Regions from separate parts of the Homo sapiens genome. Here all the other regions are linked to region 1. The links come from fine-mapping of genetic effects on gene expression. A gene starts in region 1. Each other region holds a variant in brackets. All regions are shown on one strand. Distances are between the middles of the regions.

Region 1 (2,760 bases):
CACTTGAGCTCAGGAGTTCCAGACCAGCCTGGAGAACAGAGTGAGACTTCTACTCTACAAAACGTTTAACAATTGGCCAGGAGTGGTGGCGCATGCCTGTAGTCCCAGCTACTTGAGAGGCTGAGGCAGGAGGATTGCTTGAGCTGCGGAGGTTGAGGCTGTGATCCAGCCACTGCACCACAGCTTGGGCAACAGAGCCAGACCCTGTCTCAAAAAAAAAAAAAAAAAAATGTTTCGGATTTTTCAAGGACACTGGGAAGCCATCACATGGTTTTAGGTAGGAAAGAGTCAAGATCAGATTTACATGTTGAGAAATGACTCCAGGAGCCTGAGAAGTTGAAGTCCTTGCGGGTGGTCCAGGTGCGAGTCGGCGGAGGCCCCAGCCAGGGAAGAGGCAGGGAGCTGGAGCGCAGGTCATTGACGGCAGCGAGAGTGGGGAGTCCAGCTGAAGACCTCATGATGGAGGATGTGCTCCATGGAGAAGAGGGGGAAGGCTCTTCCAGAACTGGCCTTCATTTTAGCCCTGTTAGGAAAGGAACGTAGCTTCGGATCCTAGAGGGGCCAGGCACCTGCAGTGTTGTGCTGTTTGAGTCCGCATCCGAATTTCCAGTGTCCTTTCCTTGCTCCTTACTTGCTCCTAGAAGGAGCCCTATGCTCCTAAAGAGTCTTTCGGTGCTGAGCCTTGGCAGTTTAGTTTGCTGAACTCTCGTCAGTGGAGTTAGTGGGTGGTGGTTTGGAAGGAGGGAGACAGAGGTGGAGGGCTTGTTTGAATGCACCAAGCCTTGCAGGCTTTCCTCCTCCCCGCGCTGGCCGGGTAGGTTCTCTTCAGTTCCTGATGAGGCAAACGAGAACAAAGCAGTCGAACAGCACCATGATCGACGATACTTTGGGGGCGGCGTGATCAGAGGATTCCCCTTCCCGGGAACTTGCGTCTAGTCCTCTGACGCATCCTAGTTCGGAGTGGGTGGAAGGGCATGTGGAGTCCACAGCGCCCCCTCGCCCTAGGCGGGGTGGAGACAGCGAGACGACGCCCATGATCAGCTGGTTACAAAACTCGAGGAATAAGAAGTTTAATATTTATTGGTCTGCAAATCCGGAGACCTTGCGGCCTCACTGGTCCTCCTTCCCTCTGAGCTATCTCCACACCCAGCCTTCGATCAGAAGGAGATTTAGAAGCAGAGCTGCCCGCAGCGAATACTTTTAATGCCCGGGCCGGGAAGAAAGCGGGTTAGGATCTGATCCCGCTGAGTAGAGGACCCAGGAGCCTCCCGCCCCGCGTGCTCTGTAGCGCGGGGGCGCGCTGCGCGCTGCGCCTGGGCGGCTGGCGGGGGCGGCGTGGGCGCGGTGATGCAGGTGTGACACCCGCCGGCGCCTGCCTCCGCCCGGATCGCCCAGCTCCGCGTTAGCCGGAGCTGCACGCGGGGCTGCCGGGGCGGACGCTGCTCTGCCTGCATCCGGAGGCGGCCGCCAGCGGATTTGCCACCCAGGTAGGGGACTGCGTTGCTCGCTGCGGTGCAACCGACCCAGCCGGGGCGCGGACCCCGCGTGCGCCAGGGCTCCCAGACTCGCCTGCCTGGGCTGAAATATACACGCTCGCACAGCTGAGTGCTGTTCATAGTAAATGGCACAAAAGATCGGAGAGTCTTGAAAAACCGGCGCAGAAAAGCAAGGACTTGCCCGCTGCCTGGAGCTGTGCGCTTCTTTGAAAGCGGCCTCCCCAAGGGCTGTTTTAAAACCCTGTTTGAACTATTAGCGCCATAAGTAGTTTTGCAACTTATAAATGTCAGGCTGCTGGCATTTATAGCTCCGTTTCCATAAGCTTCCTAGCCGCTGCTTTTAGTTTCAGTTACATTCTAGTAGATAGATTTTGTTATTGTTGTTGGCTTGTTCTTAAAGAACAGAATTCAAACGTGCTTACACCTGGTGGCTCTTGGGGTTTGTGAGTGTGTATTTCTGTATGTGCAGGGCGCCCTCCGTGGGCGTGGGAGCCGTTTCTTAGGGACACAGAAGGATTTGTTTATGGACGGGTTTTAGCGCAAGGGAAAGAAAATGACTTGTTTTGCAGGGATGGGCTAGCAAATGCGTTTAGCCAGGGAGGAGCAAGGCACCGCTGTGTCTTCGGCAGACGGGTGGTAGAAATCTCTGCTGTCCAGGGTTCAGCAGGGCTGATGAAATACACTCCTTTATCCGGAAATTACAGATGCAAATTACTCCGTTTAAGGGTAACTTAACGTTGGTGTCTTGGGCTCTGATAAGAGCAGCCCCAGTGGGGTGGGGTGGGACGCTGGGGGAATGCTTGCTGGCTTTCTAGCCCTTGGGGAGGTGAATGTGGGTGGCTTTGGGGCTCAGAGAGTGGCAGGTGAGGGGTAAGGAGGGTGCATGAGGGAGGACTGGGCACTGTAGTCGGCTCAGCGGTGGTTCTGGTCTATGCTGGTCTCCTCTGTGTTTCTGCTTCCTGCCCTTTCCAGAAGAGGTGACTTGTTCTGCTTGTTCCAGTTGGTGCAGTAGGTACAGGCTCGTTCTGCATCTTTCTTGAGTCAGCAAATACTTACTGAGCACTTAGTATTTGTCAGAGATGGGATTAGTCCTTGGGGATGCAGAGATGATGATAACAATGTCCTGGCTCCCTGAGGTTCACACCTGGTAGGGGGAGAAGCACTCGTAATCAGGAGGTGGATAAGTTCATGATGGTGTTGGAAAAGAGCAGTGAGAGCAGAGAGGAGGAGGAAATTGATAGTGGCAGTGATTAGTATAAAAATG
Region 2 (2,760 bases), 410 kb after region 1:
TCTTCTATGAATATGAAAAGATGAAATTTAAGACTCTATAGCTGGAAAGGGCCCAGGGACACTTTTCACAAATGCTGAATATTTCACTCACTGTCAACTCTCTACCTTGGAAACCAAATCAAAATGCAACAATGAATCAACTACATCAAAAAATTCAGGTCAATTGCCAACCAATTAACGGGAACATCTGGTTATTTTGACATCTGGTCAAAACAGTTGACCGTTACAACCCAATCAGCATCAAAAATCTGATTCCATAATAAAAGCAGCAAGAGATAGGTTCAAGGTAATGCGTAGGTATTACCTTCATTATGTTGGTTAAGAACACTGACAGCTAGGCTTTGTAAATTTCATTGGGAAACCGGTAGTCATAAGAACGCTTCTGGTTCTGATCCTCAATGATCCAATGAATAATGTTATTTTCTCCACTACAAGGTTGCAGTCCTCTATTTAGATGCCATAGTCTGCCTTTGCTGCAATTTTATGGGTACTTTTAATTTCAAACGTGAAATATTTCATCCGTGTGAAGTATTTCATCTTAAGGAGACAAGTGTTAAATATTTGTTTTAGTGCACCTCAGGGAGTGAAGCCAATATGCATTGAAGATTCAATTAGCAATAGTGATGCTGGTGATTAAAGAGCTGGAATCATCTGGCTGATTCATTTGGTTTCTTTTCATCTCATTTCTTAGGGAATAAATGTGGCTTGAAATAGTTTTATTTTGAATTAATGTTTAATGCTATCCAGCCAAGAAAAACTTTTTTTCCAAATATGTTCTCCTTCATATATAGAGAAATTCTTGATGAGCTCTCCACTATGTGCAAACTGCTCAAGTCATTTGAAAGAATTGGTAAGCTGGAATGTAGGAAGATGAACATTAGTTGTTATTACTAGAAAATTACCTTTCACCTTTTCGCTATAGAGTAGAACTCACAAACCAATGCCATGTGGATTAGAACATTGTTAAGAAACCTGTGAATTAGTTGACAGTATTAATGATTTGAGAGGCTCCACATAATCTGGATTTTTGGCTTCCAGTGGCAAAGGTTGAGCTGTGTATGCCTCTCTTTCAGTGGACATCTGTTCTCTGGTTTACACAGTTCCCACCTGATCAGTGGTGCTCATTTATGTGAGCTGTCTGGCATCTAAAGGCAAATCCTGCTCTGAAGTTTCAGGTTGTGCACATCTTCACGACTCCACAACAGC[A/G]ATGTGGAGGTAGAGGCGGAGAATAGAGTGTGTGCCAATTATGGGACTTACCCACCCAGATTTAGACATAGGTCAGTGGAACTGACCCTAAGAAGAGGCAGCAATATAGGTAAGAATGAAAGCTAAGGCACATCTAACAGCCATCCATGGGTGGGGAGGGCTACAAAAATGATATGGCAGAGCCCGCTGGAGGTGAGGAGATTGCGGAGAAGGGGATTTGCAGTGGAGAGTCATCACTTGAGAGGATTTTTAAGGAGTAGGAAGGCTCCTTCCTGCAAGGAGCTCAAAGCCTCATTCTCAGCGATGGTGGAAGGAATGAAGCAGAAACCCAGTCCCAAGAATCAAGGCTCATCATCACAGCAACCAAAACACAGGGCCGTGAGTCTGTTGAGAAACCGACGTAGCAGCTCAGTGTTAAACAAGATATGCCAGATTGCCAATGCTGAGTTTCAGTGATTGGCAGGCAGAGGCTGTGGGCTCCTTCTTTATTTCAAGAATAGGGCCAGAACTAGAGGTAGACACAACAAAACATGGAGATGTCCTTGAATCTGACTTTGAGGACCTGGGGAAAGATATGCAGAACAATTGCTGAAAGGAGGGTAAAAAATATCTCCATTTCATTCTTCAATGAGTCATTATTTAATATTGAAACCCTTCTGTTAGCATAAACTTTGGTGGCATATTTATTTTTAAAAAGGCTAAAGGAAGAAAGCTCTGAAGACATAGCAGGACTGTGAGATGATACAGAATCATCATCCATCAATGTCTATTCAGCCAGTATTAGCAGAAACCTGTACGGAACAACCACTCTTAACATAGAAAAGGGTATTATAATTTGAAAGCTACAGCTCTTGCCCTAGCACCCAGTTTGACCTCTCCCTATGAGAGAAATGGCCTCTTGAACACCTGAGGGTTAACTAGCCAAGAAAGGGGTTGCTGCTGAGATGGAGGGAGAGATTAGATGGGGAATAATAAACACATAGCTCTGGCTGCTGTACCTCTGGTCACCTCCCAGGATAGGCATCCCTAATTGATTACAGTACTCTTTCCTGCTGAGCTGGGATGAGGCCTCAGAATTGTTCCCAATACCATGTATCAGGAGCCAATCAATTAGGGCTGACATAGCAATGAAATGCATCTGCCCTCCTTTGATTCGGTTTTTACTGCCAAATGGGCTGTGGATGAGGCCGCTGAGTGGGGGCAGAACATTCATGTCCAGGTTGGAAGCAGGCAGATTGTCAGCCAGGGAAGCTTATAACAGGATATATTTTTAAGGTATTTATTTGTATTGATTCTTCCTTCCCTCCCCACTTCGTCTAAGTAGAGAGCAAGGCCCTTATAATTCCCTGCCTGTAGGATTTTGTTGGGCAAAAAGCATAAGATAGAGTAGTACCTCCTTTCTCTTACAAGAAATTAAACTGAATAAAAAGATTCCTTGCTATGTGCTCCAAAAGAAAGAAGGGAGAAGGGAATCATTTAGGATCATTGGAGTCATTGTTTTGCAGGCATGTGGGTGGAAGGAGAAAGGAGAATATAGATAAACGACCTCTAGCA
Region 3 (2,760 bases), 52 kb after region 1:
CCATAAGCAGATGGGTGGGCACAAATTGTAAGGAAACGAATTCCATCATATTTTCTGTCCTGGGAATTTAGTTCTGAGGCTCTGAGAGACTGAAATAGTCATACTGTGGCAAATCATGCCACAAAATCATGTCTGAGCCTTAGATATGGGTGCAGAGGAGCTTGTAGTGAGCAGAGAGCAGGCAGATGCTTGTGAGGAAGCAGAGACAAGAGAACAGATGGCTCCATGGGGAAGGAGTTTTGAATTCTGCACCCCCACCCCTCTGCTCCTGGGCTAGACTTTCCTCCCCTTGCCTAGGAGACTCATATGATTATGATGAAAGAAACCCCCTTACGCGTGTAGCCTGGGAGGGGGCATGGGTTCCTTTTCATCCAGATGATCCTCAGTCAAGATGATTTAGGTGAGAGCCTGTGGGCTTTGACCATGGAGCTGCCTCACCATGAGCGTGGAGCTCTGCCCTGTGCTGAGATGGAAGACTAACAGTTAAGCACATGTGTGCACATTCAAGCCTGTGTGTCTATTCACAAAACTGATCAGGGCCAAAACTCCCCATTGAAACAAAACAAAAGCACAACCATCTGAAGAGAAAAACCATGTCATTAATGGTTACACAGAAAAATTGAGTCAAATTACCAGGTGGCTTCCATAGAAAAGTTAAACTGCAGCTTTATAATTTGGTCATAATATCCCCAGGGAGCCTGTTGTGATTTATTTGCTTGTTTATTTTGAAAGATAAAGAGTACCTCCAAAAGCCTGAATAACAAAAGTTAAATATAAACCACTTTAGCCTAATCAGCCTGAGACCACTAAGGACCAATCTACAGCCCAAGAAAGTCAGATTTATTGATCCATTTTCATGATGGAGGCTGCATGCCTGAAGGGCCATTGGACATCTCACCAAACACAGGGAAAGATAGAATTATTCTACAGTTTTCAAGAAGGCTAAAATTTAGGTAAAATGAAAATAAAGCTTAAAAGCAAAGCAGTGCTGGGTATAGAGGGGTCTGGACTGTAAATTGAACCCAGGCTCCCATTTCCTTGGAAATGACAAGGTTAAGGTAAATGTGAGTGTTTTCGTCAGAAACCCCTTATATGAAGCTTTGTATCTGGGCTGGAAATCAAAGCTGCTTCTCTGTGTCAAAGTGACTTAGGTCTTCCAGGCAAGAGTGAGATGGTTCATTCCTACTCATACAATTTCCAACAGTGAAGTTTCTGATAGTCACTGATTTTAGATATCAAGGCTTTTCAGGATGCAAGAAAACAGTAGTTACTCAAAGAAGGTTATTATGTGTGGTGTGTCCTTGGTAGAAATATCATTTCCTGGTATACTTTGCAAGTAGCTTTATCTATGTCTGTTATCCCAGCCTGATGAATGTCAGGACAAATGTTTATTTTGTCAATCTGAGTTAATTTTTACTCTTTTTTTTTTTTTTTGCCAAAGAGTGAGCAGCAGCAAGATTTATTGCAAAGAGCAAAAGA[G/A]CAAAGCTTCCACAGTGTGGAAGGGGACCCAAGCGGGTTGCCCAGTTTTTACTCTTTAAAAAAATCGTTGAGGCTCTTTGCGAGAGAATGAGTCAATGTTCTTTGTTTTTTCCAGAACTTGTGAATAGATTTTTGTAAAACTTGTGAGAACTCACAGCTATTCTCTATGAACACACATGGTTAATGGTGTTTGGAGGAGCTGGGTGGGAGCTGCCAGCTTTGCTGATATCGCAGCTGGGATTTCCCAGCCTTGAGAGGTGGCATAACACAGGGCACTGTTCCCACCTTTGAGTCTCTTGGGCTTCACTTTCCTGATCTTTTTCCATATGAGGGAACATGTATTATTATTTACTTAATTTTTAAGAAGTGAATTTACATCTTGTCCTTAAATAGATGCATTACAAAGTAAAGCTTTTAATCACTGCCATAACAGGAAAAACAGTATTGCTTTCATATATTCAAAGTAACCATAGGAAAGAAATTAAATGATACCTGGTATCACTTCTTTTTATCATCTATTGCTTGTCAAATTGTGTAAGTTTGGCTTGTGTTACCTTTAAAAAAGGGAATGTGGGGTGAGGAAGATATTAGCAAAGGTCAGAAAGGAAACAGAAAGGAAAGAGGTTTTCTTTCTGAGCTTCCTTTCATCCCACAGCACCAACTAAGACTTTCTCCATGATTAGATAGATAAAAGAGTTAAAAGAGGAGACTCATACCATGTATCTTAGTCCATTTTGTACTGCCATAACAAAATACCTGAGACCGGGCAATTTACAAACAATAGAAATCTATTTCTCACAGTTCTGGAGGCTGAGGAGTCCATGATCATGGTGTCAGCAGATTCGTGTCTGGAGGGGGAATCTCTGCCTCCTAGTTGGTGCCTTCCAAGATGGTGCTGGGTTCTCATGTGATGGAAATGGTGAACTCTGCCCTGACATGCAGAAGGGCTAAAGGGATGAATGCTCTGTCCTTATATGGCAGGGGAGATGGAGGGATCAGGCAGCTCTCTGAAGCCTCTTTTAGAAGAGCATTAATCCCATTCACAAGGTGGAGCCCTCGTGACTTACTTACTTCACCTCCACCTCTTAATACTATCATCTTAGGGGTTAAGTTCCAACGTATGACTTTTGGGGGGACAAATACATTCGAACCATAGCAGCAGGATTCACTATTGGACCACGTCACATCATCTCTGGTGCCAGCGTCACTGTGTGTCCCACCCTTGGGAAACTAGCATTGCATCTCGGGAGCTCTGGCTGCTCGGCCACAGGCTCAGGATGG

Alleles and levels. Alleles are on the strand shown, and positions count from the first base shown. SD is a standard deviation of normalised expression in the study named. Not every link is listed here.
For the expression in pancreas of the gene that starts at base 1,381 in region 1, A is the high allele of the variant in region 3 and G is the other (large effect, 1.5 SD a copy in GTEx).

Evidence for each region. PIP is the estimated chance that this variant, and not a neighbour inherited with it, causes the effect.
Region 2: its variant is fine-mapped to the expression of SV2B in T cells (TOPMed, PIP 0.91).
Region 3: its variant is fine-mapped to the expression of SV2B in pancreas (GTEx, PIP above 0.99).

Annotation. Positions count from the first base shown.
Region 1 is chr15:91,098,877-91,101,636 of GRCh38, forward strand. It overlaps SV2B (synaptic vesicle glycoprotein 2B), which reads left to right and starts at 1,381. Exons shown (of 13, transcript NM_001323032.3): 1 at 1,381-1,487. RefSeq lists an enhancer at 617-1,158 and a silencer at 1,208-1,607.
Region 2 is chr15:91,512,082-91,514,841 of GRCh38, forward strand. No RefSeq gene overlaps it. Among named protein-coding and RNA genes, the nearest start is that of CRAT37, 50 kb to the left of the region's middle. The variant A/G (reference allele first, on the strand shown) is at 1,207.
Region 3 is chr15:91,150,653-91,153,412 of GRCh38, forward strand. The region is part of intron 1 of SV2B (synaptic vesicle glycoprotein 2B); the gene reads left to right. Among named protein-coding and RNA genes, the nearest start is that of SV2B, 52 kb to the left of the region's middle. The variant G/A (reference allele first, on the strand shown) is at 1,480.